3 linked regions of the Homo sapiens genome follow. The protein of the gene in region 1 purifies or fractionates together with the protein of each later gene. This does not show direct contact. Each region holds a gene or a part of one and is shown on either strand. Other genes may lie near its edges. The genes, in order: RPEL1, APAF1 and DUSP29.

Region 1 (4,182 bases):
TTAATATAAGCTTTTATTATTATGCTAAATATTTGTATGCTCCTGTCTCCTTAACAAAAGGCAGTAAGTTGTAGTAGAGGGCACGAGGTAGAGATTTTGGCCCTTGGTTCAAATTCAGATTCCCGCACAGTCTAAATGAACTTGAATAATTCACTTAAATCCTCAACATCGGTTCCTCTAGGTAGATAATACCAACACATAGAGACCACACAGGGTTGTAGTTAGTATTCTATCAGATCACCGGGGTTAAAGTACTTTGAAAACTCCATGCAAAGTGCTCCACAAATATTAGATTGGTGGACACTTTCATGCTCCTAGATCAGCTCTTGGAACAAACTAGGAACTGAATGAACCCTGATGCTCCAAGTTGTTGGGCCATACTGCCTCCTGGTGGTAGTCATGAAACGTGCAGAGTCTTTGCTGCTTGGGGTGCTCCTGGGGTTGGTTGGGTAAGATCAGGAGCTGGCCGAGAATGTGAGGAAAACCCAAAGTACCCGGCCAGGGAGGGTATTTTTCCTTCCCCGCTGAAGACACTCCCCAGGCCAGTCCCTTGACGATGGAAGAGTCAGTCTCCTCTCTGTGCTCTCAACTTTCTCTTACTGCTTTTGCTTATGCTGTTCCACCTTCCAACTGGTGCCTCTTCCAAACCCTAAATCTTCAGACCTTCTCATATCCAACTCTTCCAGAAGGGATCCCTGAACCATGCCTCCCAGGGTATCCCGCACCATTTTTGTTTGTTTGTTTGAGACGGAGTCTTGCTCTGTCACCCAGGCTGAGTGCAATGGCATTATCTCCGCTCACTGCAGCCTCCACCTCGCGGCTTCAAGTGATTCTCTTGTCTCACCCTCCCGAGTAGCAAAGGTTACAGGCACGTGCCACCACGCCCAGCTAATTTTTGTATTCTTAGTAGAGACAGGGTTTCACCATGTTGGCCAGGCTGATCTCGAACTCCTGACCTCAGCTGATCCACCTGCCTTGGCCTCCCAAAGTGCTGGGATTACAGGCGTGAGCCACCACACCTGGCCATCCCTCACCATTTTTTTAAACCTACAGAATTCACAGCCTGTACTTGACTGCTATTATATAGTTCTCTCCAAACTATGTTTCGGGGTTTCTTTTTTGTTTGTTTTCTGTCTCTTGTTTGAGACAGGGCCTCACTCTGTCGCCCAGGCTGGAGTGCAGTGGCGCAATCATGGCTCACTGAAGTCTCAGCCTCCCCGGCTCAAGCAATTCTCCTGCCTCAGCCTCCCGAGTACCTGGGACCACAGGCATGTGCCATCACACAGGCAAATTTTTTACTTTGTAAAAACGGGTTCCTATTATGTTGCCTAGGCTGGTCTCAAACACCTGGGCTCAAGTGATCCTTCTGCATTGGTTTCCTGAAGTGCTGGGATTACAGGCATGAGCCACTGTGCCTGGCCAAACTGTGGTTCTTTGGTAGAATTTCCTGGTTTTAAAAAAAAAAAAAGTGGGCTCTAGTCTTGCCGGGGACTCGTGGGGTAACTTGTTCTTGGGAGCCAGCGGTATGGCGTCGGGCTGCAAGATTGGCCCGTCCATCCTCAACAGCGACCTGGCCAATTTAGGGGCCAAGTGCCTCCAGATGCTAGACTCTGGGGCCGATTATCTGCATCTGGATGTAATGGATGGGCATTTTGTTCCCAACATCACCTTTGGTCACCCTGTGGTAGAAAGCCTTCGAAAGCAGCTAGGCCAGGACCCTTTCTTTGACATGCACATGATGGTGTCCAAGCCAGAACAGTGGGTAAAGCCAATGGCTGTAGCAGAAGCCAATCAGTACACCTTTCATCTCGAGGCTACTGAGAACCCAGGGACTTTGATTAAAGACATTCGGGAGAATGGGATGAAGGTTGGCCTTGCCATCAAACCAGGAACCTCAGTTGAGTATTTGGCACCATGGGCTAATCAAATAGATATGGCCTTGGTTATGACAGTGGAACCGGGGTTTGGAGAGCAGAAATTCATGGAAGATATGATGCCAAAGGTTCACTGGTTGAGGACCCAGTTCCCATCTTTGGATATAGAGGGCGATGGTGGAGTAGGTTCTGACACTGTCCATAAGTGTGCAGAGGCAGGAGCTAACATGACTGTATCTGGCAGTGCTATTATGAGGAGTGAAGACCCCAGATCTGTGATCAACCTATTAAGAAATATTTGCTCAGAAGCTGCTCAGAAACGTTCTCTTGATCGATGAAACCATAAGGAGCCCAATGTTTCTGTTCATGAAATCTCCCTTTTACTGGAAAACAGGAATATTGACTACCAAATCATCATGAAATTGAAGCTGTACTGCTTTTTTGAGCAGTTATTCATTCCAGTGATTAAAACTGATTGTGCAGAATATTCTAAGAGGTCAGAAATTGGTGTGTATAACTACATTTTTAGTGATGCAATTTAATGATTAGTGAGTAAGATACTGTTTTTATTGAGAGACTTGATTTTTATAAAGAGTAAAAATACGGCTGCATTAAGGTTACAAACAGAAAAGTGTCTTAATGCCTAAGGAGGGCATATTAGCTACACTACAAAAACAAATTTTGTCTGTACTTCTGAAAAGAATTTTGTTGTTTCTCAGCTGTTTTCCAAAAGCAAAGGAAGTCTTTATGGCTTTTTTCTATTTCATGTTATTTGTGATTTGTTTATAAGTTTGGGTGGGATGGCATACCATATTCTTGGTTCTTAAAATCTATCACTTTTCACCTTACACTTAATGTGTAAAAACTATAAAAACAATGCGTGAAACCCAGGGGTTCTAAAATACAAGCATAGATTTTATCAGGGTGTTTTTGTCAAAGCAGGTTATTCAGTGATTCCTCCCCACCATTCTTAAGGACGTTAAATAATGCTGTTGTGTTAGCTCTGAGTAGAAAGGAAAAAGTAAAAACCTCTGTATGGAAGTAATATTGGGTTGAATTCTGACTGCCCTTTTCTAGCTGGACCTTTAACAAATCACCCAGTCTTTTTTGTGTTTCTCTGAAGTCATTTATACATTAAATGTAATTATAACAACTGTGGGGTTGTGTTGAGAATTAAGAGGTAACACTATATATGTAAAGTTTCTAGTACTAGTCCCAGAATTTAGAATATGCTCAATACAAAGTAGATAGCATTATATAAGTTTATATTTTTGTGAGTTATAAAGTACTTTGATATATTCTCATTAAATCTGTAAATCACCTCTATAAGTAAGTGGTAATAATAAAGCAGATATTTTTGTCCCCATTTAAAAAAAAAAAAAAGTGTTCCCTAACAGTTTCCAGAGCACGAGCTGAAGGGATTGACGGGCTCCTCAAAGGCTATACACTTTTCATGGCCTTGTCTCTTCCAGGTACAGTGCTGGCTACTTTTACATATATGTTGTCAACAAATCCTCAGGATAATTCTAAGGCAATTCTACTGCAAATGAGATACTATCTTAATTTACAGTTGACAAAAACTGAGTCTCAGGAAGGTTGCCTGACCTGCTCAAGGTCATATAGCTAGTAAGGGTGCAGTATAGGTTCGAACCCACCTGCCTGATTACGTCTCCCATGCCAACTCCTATCCATTGGTAGCACCTGCCTGAAACAGTGACTTGAGAAAGAATTCCTAGGTTTTGAATTCTTAATTATTGAATTAAGAGGGTAAAGTGCCAGGTTTGATTAGTTGTGGCTGCCATGAGTGAGGAATGGTGAGTGGTGATGTACAAGCCTGGTATTTGCCATTTTCCCATTACCCCATGCCAGATAGTTCTACAGGAGGCTACTCAACTTGATTCTGAACATGGTTTTAAGAAAGAATGATCCAGCCTGGGCAACAATGTAAAACCCCATCTCTACAAAAAATACAAAAATTCTCCAGATGTGGTAGCATGTGCCTGTGGTCCCAGCCACTCGGGAGGCTGAGGTGGGAGGACCACTTGAGTATGGGAGGTCGAGGCTGCAGTGAGCTGAGATCACACCACTGCACTCCAGCCTGGGTGACAGAGTGAGACTTTGTCTCAAAAAATAAACTAAAACAAACAAAAAAAGGAATGATATGTTGAGTAGGCATGAGCTCTAATGTTAAGACTGACCTGTATTAAAACCCAGCTCATTTGTTTTTAGAACTTTGAGCAGTTACTTGGCCTGTTGAATGTTGAAGCCTTACATTCCATTTGTGTTAAATATGCATAATAATCTCTGG
Region 2 (3,652 bases), on another chromosome or scaffold:
TTTAAGCTATTTTTTTTTTGCTTCAGCTAATATATTATTGTAGTTTCTATCATTGTGACCAGAAAGTCCTAATAGTAGTATACATAAGAAAATCAAAGGAGATACTCTGATGTACGAATCAAATTTATCTACCTAATTCTCAATATCCACACTTACTTTGAGGAAGCAGTCACTTGACCCAGTGGCTAAGAGAAGATGATGACTACTGTTGGTGAAATGGCAGCAATTGACTTGCTCTGAGTGCTCATCATAGGTGTGTACTAGTTCCCCAGTCATAGAATTCCAAATCTAAAGAGAAAAGAGAAAAAATTTACAAATATCCATTATTTTCAAAGGGAGAACAGAGGGGCAAAGCAATGTCCATTGCTTTGCAAATGCTATCTTATCCTGTCATAGCAGATTTTCCTAGTTGGACAAGATGCTAATGAAACCTCTCCCCTTTCTAAAATATGGCAATATTTTGCCTTAATGTTTAAAAAAAATTATTTGCAAATATACATATATGTACCTATAGCATAACTAGAGTGTCATGAACACATGACATTTCTTAAGGGCAAGATTTCACATGTTTATATGAATGAAAGCAGGCAGAGAAGTGCTTTAAAGAGGTTAGCATAATAGATTTCTGGTCAGAAGGGTTGAGCCCAAGAGCTGGCTCTACCACTTATGACTTGTGTGTCACAAATCCCTAACTTACCTGCATCTCAGTTCCCTCTTCTGTAAAATGGGGATATCTATACCTCTCCCACACAATTTAAGATATCAAATGAGATAATGAACATGACAAGTGTTCTATGGACTTCAAGGTACCATATAAATAAGTAAAGGCAGATTGCTTAGTTAAAAAAAATAAAGGTTTTATAGTCTGAGAGAAACCCAGCTTTCAACCCTATTACTGTTCCCAGTTTAATGTAAGCTTGAGCAAGAGACTTCATCTCTGAATCTGCGTCCTCTTCTGTAAACGGGATCGACACTTAACCCTGCAAGCTGTAGCAGGAAATTGATAATGTAATATGACAAAGTGTGTAGTATTTATAGCCTCTTATAGTGTTCAGTTTTCAGTAAAAAGTAATCATCAGGCCGGGCGCGGTGGCTCACGCCTGTAATCCCAGCACTTTGGGAGGCCGAGGCGGGCAGATCACGAGGTCAGGAGATCAACACCATCCTGGCTAACATGGTGAAACCCCGTCTCTACTAAAAATACAAAAAATTAGCCAGGCGCGGTGGCGGCCGCCTGTAGTCCCAGCTACTCGGGAGGCTGAGGCAGGAGAATGGCATGAACCCGGGAGTCGGAGCTTGCAGTGAGCCGAGATAGCGCCACTGCAGTTCAACCTGGGCGAAAGAGCGAGACTCCGTCTCAAAAAAAAAAAAAAAAAAACAAAAAAATTAATCATCATTCTAGTTACTATGTAAGACAACTAAGCAGTCTATGCCATATAACAACAAACAAAAGAAATAAATTACCTAATGAACCTTCACTGGGATTTTGACTTTTTAGAGGTACTAATGTCCTTTGGCATTTCCTTTGTATGTTATCAAAGCACTGATTAGAATCCCCAGAGGTCCAGAGAGTTTATCTTATTTTAAAGTTCTTTAATAGGTATTTCTACCTCTGGCTTAGAAAACAGAAACTCATTATTATTTCCTTTTACTCCATGTAGCTCTGACTTTAGAACTGCCCTCAGTGGCCACCTCCAAGTCTGACTCAGAGTCAGAGTAGACACTACAGAGTGAATTAACTGTTGGTTAAGCCACGAGTCCAATCTATCAAGAGGTAGATTTTTCCAAGGTCTCAAATTTAGTCTGGACATTCCATAGCCCTCTTCCAGTAGGTGAAAACTTCAGGAAAACACCCAAGGCAAATTTCTTGCCCACTCCACCTAGCTACATCCAGTACTCCAGATTTAACCCCTTTGAAAAAGGGTTAAAGTAAGGTCTGTCTTCCATATATCAGTGATAACCCCCACAAGCCTTCAGTTTCTCTTGAATTCTATATTAGTATAAATGCTCCTGGTAGAAGCCAAATTTAGGAACAAGAGAATACTTAACAAAAATAAAAATTACTCTCTGGCGGGGCACAGTGGCTCATGCCTATAATCTCAGCACTTTGGGAGTCAAAGGCAGGCGGATCACTTGAGGCCAGAAGTTCAATACCAGCCTGACCAACATGGCAAAACTCTGTCTCTACCAAAACTACAAAAATTAGCTGGGCATGGTGGTGCACACCTGTGATCTCAGCTACTCAAGAGGCTGAGGCATAAGAATCAATTGAATCCTGGAGGCAGAGATTGCAGTGAGCCGAGATTGTACCACTGCACTCCAGTCTGGGTGTCAGAGCAAGACTCTGCCTCAAAATAAATAAGTAAAAATTACTCTGTTTACTTTTCTCTATTTATGTTTTTAGACCAGTAACGTAATTATTAGTTTGTTCATCCACCTGGTTTTCCACTGAATATATAAGCCAGTTCATAAGCAAATTAAAAAAATTGGGGTTGCATTTTAAAATTGTATCTTACAACAGGAATCCCCAAGTTTGTGCAGCAACACTCCTAATCACAATGCACTCAAAGATTTCAACTGATATTTAACCCATGGACTTGTCTATTAATGGAAGACAAACTCACTAATTTGTCATTGCTTTTCCCCACTGCTTGTTTAATCCTGAGGTGATCAACCTAGGCATTTTTGCTGGTGTTTAAAAATAAAGAATTTTCAGGCCACGCACAGTGGCTCATACCTATAATCCTAACACTTTGGAAGGCTGTGGCAGGAGGATCACTTGAGCCCAGGAATTGGAGTTTACAGTGAGCTATGATCATGCCACTGCCCTCCAGCCTGGGTCACAGAGCAAAATCCTGTCTCTTTAAAAAAAAGTAAAGAATTTTCAGATAGTGTTAATTTACAATGAATCAGGTTAGTAGATCAACAGGTGAGAGTCCTTTAACTCTACTTACTCTGGTCTCATGATCATGGAAAAATAAAATGAATTCTGTTGTGATTACAACTCAAGAGGAAAAGATTTTCCTACCTTCACTTTTTTATCCACTGAGCAGGTTGCTATAAATCTGTCATCTGTAGAGAATGCACAACAAAGCACTTCATCCTCATGAGCCTTGATTTCTAGAAGTTTCTCTCCTGTTTCAGCTTTGAACACCTGCACAAGTAACAATAAAATATTTTTTATAATAAACTGCTTAACTACTGGTCATCATTCAATAAAAATCTTTAAGTGAGTTTAATCATTGTCATTTTGCAAAACAGAAAGGAACCTTGGCAAAGCTACTCCCAAAATCAGAATTTCTGTCAGAATGTGTATGCCTTCACATAACTAGAGAACTATTCACTGTTACATGTTTGTAAATATCAATGAAAATGTTACAGGATCTTTGGGGTGTTGATTTTCTGGCCAGAAACTTCTGTGGCCGGTGGCGCCTTTGCCCAAGTTTTGCTTGGGCCCACTGGTCTTGTTTCACCCACTTGGCCTGACAGGCTGCATTCAGCTCACACTACCAGCCTGGGTCCCAAGCCTGCCAAGGGCGAGTCAGGCGTGGAACAGCGAGGCGTGTGTGAGTGAGCGTGGGGTCCAGCCACTGCGCACAGACGTGCTGACTGCTGCAGCGGGGCAGGCAGCTCCAGGTGCCAGCATGGGCTC
Region 3 (3,652 bases), about 28 Mb from region 1:
GTGTGGCCAGTTTAGGATGCAGCAAAAAACAGTCAAGGTTGCGAATTTAACATGCTGGGCGTTACCTGAAATAACTAGGACTTCCAACTACTGAAGGCAACTGAGGCATAGCTGGGCAGCAGTCACAGGCAAGACGGTCGGGGAGAGAAGCCTGAGGCCCTGGCCTGGCCTGGCCTTCTCATTGCCAGAACACGGCTTAGCAGTCAAGGCCTCAAGCAACATAAACCATCTCCTTGCATGGTTAGGCAAATGCCGAGTCCAATCACTCACACGACATCATTTCTCAAAACCAGACCTCCTGGGTACTCTCTTCTCTTCACCTCCATCCTTGGAGGAATAGAGTTTGGGAGAGTGGGGCAGACAGGAGATTTCCAGTAGAAGTTAAAAACCCCGAGGCCACCTTATGCCTTTACAATGGTCTCTCCTGAAAACTAAGGAAATAACAATACAAATCATGCTATATTTACATAGTAAATGAATATATGACTCGTTCATTACTGAAAATGTACAAAATGTAGAAAGACAAAAACAAGAAAATTTAAACTACATATAATCCCATTACCACATTTTGTCATGGGATAAGCACATTCTGACATAAATCTTTCCACTGCCTTTTCCCCTTGGAGTCATCTTTTAACCTCTCAAAGAAGCTTCAGTATTGCATCATTCAACTTCACAAGACTCTCACAAGGAAAGTACTGCCAGTGTAATCGGTACTATTTAGCAAACAAAGAAAACGGAGGCTCCCAGCAGTTCTGCCACCTCAGTTCATGCGTCAGTTTCAGCTGTCAGCCCTATGTTTTCTCAGGTGCCTCAACACGGAGGAGCTTCACCCTCAAGTAACAAGAACACCCAAGACACCGGAAGGCCGGTTCATTTCACTTTCCCATCAGGTGAACTAACCGAGATCAGATGCCAGAAATGTGCCCACTGTTTTAAAGTCCACTTGCAAGGAACGGGCACACTCAAGACTGCACGGTTAAGACTCCACTGGGTTTGGGAGGTGGAGGCAGGTGGATTACCTGAAGTCAGGAATTTGAGACCAGCCTGGCCAACATGGTGAAACCCTGTCTCTACTAAAAATACAAAAATTAGCCACGCATGGTGGCACACACGTGTAATCTCAGCTACTCGGGAGGCTGAGGCAGGAGAATTGCTTGAACCTGGGAGGTGGAGGTTGCAGTGAGCAGTGAGCCGAGATTGCGCCACTGCACTCCAGCCTGGGCGACAGAGCGAGACTCTGTCTCAAAAAAAAAAAAGAAAAAAAAAGTAAACTACATGATTCCAGTGAACTGGGAAGAGTAAAAAAAAGGTTACAAAAAAAAAAAGTAAACTGCATGAGTCCAACAAATGTGTAAACAATGTCCATCACTGCTAAAATGAATCAGTGAAAACAAGACACCATTAATTTTTTTTGTCTATGAAATTGACAAAGAATACGGACTGCAATTTTTAGCAATTTTAGCAAGTTTTCTGTAGGGTAATTTAGTAACAAGTATCAAATGTATTTTAAAATGGCCATATCTGTTGACCCAGCAATTTCACCTTTAAAAATGTCTCCTACGGACATAAACAGAGGAGTGCCCAAAGAAACACATCAAAATGTTTGGTAAGAAAAAATTGGGACATACCTATATAATGAAATAGCATGCAGTTATTGAAGTCTTATATGTTGCCACAGGAAGATGTTTACAATATATCACGTCAAAGGTTTTGAAACTTTATATATATAGTATTGTACCAAAAAAAAACCTTTCTATAAAATATACAAATCTATGCATAGAGAAACAATGGGAGGTTCTTACATCAAAAGCTAACAATAGCCTTTATCTCCAGGGGAGTAGAAATACAGGTGATTTTTTTGGAGGGGGGAGTATGTTTTCTACATTCTACATTGAGCATGTGTTATTTTTGTCATGAGACGACATATTATTTAAAAATTGAACAGACTGATCACATCTAGGATTGTGCCTAACCAGAAACTAAAGCTCCTGTGTCATCTAGATTCTGGAAGTACATTCTTAAATCTGTTTTTCTTTCTGAAGTCTTTTCTCCCTCAGCAGAGGCATTTATGTGGACCCAGGAGTGGGGCACACGGCCTTTTCTCCATGCCCATCACCTCAAAATGCCCCTGTGTTTCTTAGTCTCTTTTTAACATATGTGAGCAGATAATGTATGTGGCCCTGAAATTTAAAAACAAAACCAAAGCAATCTAGTGTCAGACACCACCCTCTGAGCCTGCCCCACTCCCAATAATTGCTGAGCTGGGCATCTGTCCCATCTGGGGACTGGACGATGGGTGTCTGTGATGATGGCTCTGCCTCCCCCACAACATCTGTGTAAGAGGCACTCCATTTATTTGCAGATTCCCATTCTGCTGTGGATGCTCTTTCAAGCCCTCAACTGAACTCTGAGTGAATGAAGCTGGGGGAAGTCCCCAGAGTGATGTGTGAGGATACCAACTCCCCTTCCCGTCCAGGGAGCCAAGACCCTGAAAACTTGTGGTGGGCCTCAAATACCCACCGGGTCTCAGGGTCCTCACGAGCCCCTTTCTCTGCCTCAGGCACAACCAACGTCAGCCTGGTGTGGTGGATATGGAGGTGTCAGGCAATGAGTCTTGTTGCATATCTATCCCGCTCCCCAAAAGTGGCAAAGTGCAAACTGTTATTCATTCAAACTGCCACTTGATTATGTTGAAAGCCAGTTACTGAACCCAGAGAGAACAGTCTTCATGGTGGGTAGGAGCTTCCTGTCAAGAAGAGTTAATTTTAATTTTTCCACTGAGCTCAACCTCAAAGTGAGGTTGATTGCTACTCAGCAAGATGGACTGCATTAGCGGCGGCTTTAATTGGGCGCAGATCTACGTCCCCAAAGCATAATGTTTGTTGTACACATACTTTGGGGCAAGACGAAAAATGAAAAGCAGACCTTTCTAAGGAAAAATGGAAAGCACAATGTGTCCCACAGTCAGAATGGCCACACTAAGAGCCAAGTGGAGGGGGGCTCAGTGGGACTCCCCACCTCCCCATGCCACAGTTCTGATGGGCTGTCTGCAAATGTTTCCAAATGCTCAATTCCCTTCCCAAACACTGGACACCATCATGGTTCTCATGCCAAATAAAAAGCTCCAGGAAACCAATGAAAGACAAGCGCACCCTTGGCCGAGGGGCCATGGCATATATTTCTGGTGTGAGGCTTCCTCCTGGCTCAGGGTGTTGGTCCCTGCTAGCATCTAACATGGTCACTTCTGTCCACATGCTTTTACCAGTGGCCTTGAGATGAGCCCTCAGCTGGAGTGCAATGCCACTTTTACCCTCTTACTGGTACGGCTCCAGACCCTTGTCACATCTTCCCTGAGCTGAAGTCCTGGTCTTCATGCTATTGAGGGAAGTGTCTTCTTAAACCCAGATTGTATCACTTCTCTTTAAACACTCTCTAGAGCTCTCTTTGACTCCCAAACACAGATCCTAGCATCCAGGATCCCCACACATCAGCCAGATTGATTTTTCTTTTTCTTTCTTTCTTTTTTCTTTTCTTTTTTTTTTAAAGACAGAGTCTCTGCTGCTCAGACTGAGTGCAGTGGTGCAATCACAGCTCACTGCAGCCTCAACCTCCCTGAGCTCAGGTGATCCTCCCACTTCAGCCTCCCCAG

Evidence for each region.
Region 2: the proteins of RPEL1 (region 1) and APAF1 purify together in Homo sapiens (affinity purification with mass spectrometry; one large-scale study listed by BioGRID and IntAct). This does not show direct contact.
Region 3: the proteins of RPEL1 (region 1) and DUSP29 purify together in Homo sapiens (affinity purification with mass spectrometry; one large-scale study listed by BioGRID and IntAct). This does not show direct contact.

What each region holds. Positions count from the first base shown.
Region 1 is NC_000010.11:103,244,472-103,248,653, forward strand, and holds RPEL1 (ribulose-phosphate 3-epimerase-like protein 1), read left to right. Parts: upstream 1-1,415; 5' UTR 1,416-1,525; coding exon 1,526-2,212; 3' UTR 2,213-3,545; downstream 3,546-4,182. UniProt on the Homo sapiens protein: Catalyzes the reversible epimerization of D-ribulose 5-phosphate to D-xylulose 5-phosphate.
Region 2 is NC_000012.12:98,679,779-98,683,430, reverse strand, and holds part of APAF1 (apoptotic protease-activating factor 1), read right to left. Parts: intron 3,155-3,652; coding exon 3,029-3,154; intron 289-3,028; coding exon 157-288; intron 1-156. UniProt on the Homo sapiens protein: Oligomeric Apaf-1 mediates the cytochrome c-dependent autocatalytic activation of pro-caspase-9 (Apaf-3), leading to the activation of caspase-3 and apoptosis. This activation requires ATP. Isoform 6 is less effective in inducing apoptosis.
Region 3 is NC_000010.11:75,046,006-75,049,657, reverse strand, and holds part of DUSP29 (dual specificity phosphatase 29), read left to right. Parts: intron 1-3,652. UniProt on the Homo sapiens protein: Dual specificity phosphatase able to dephosphorylate phosphotyrosine, phosphoserine and phosphothreonine residues within the same substrate, with a preference for phosphotyrosine as a substrate. Involved in the modulation of intracellular signaling cascades.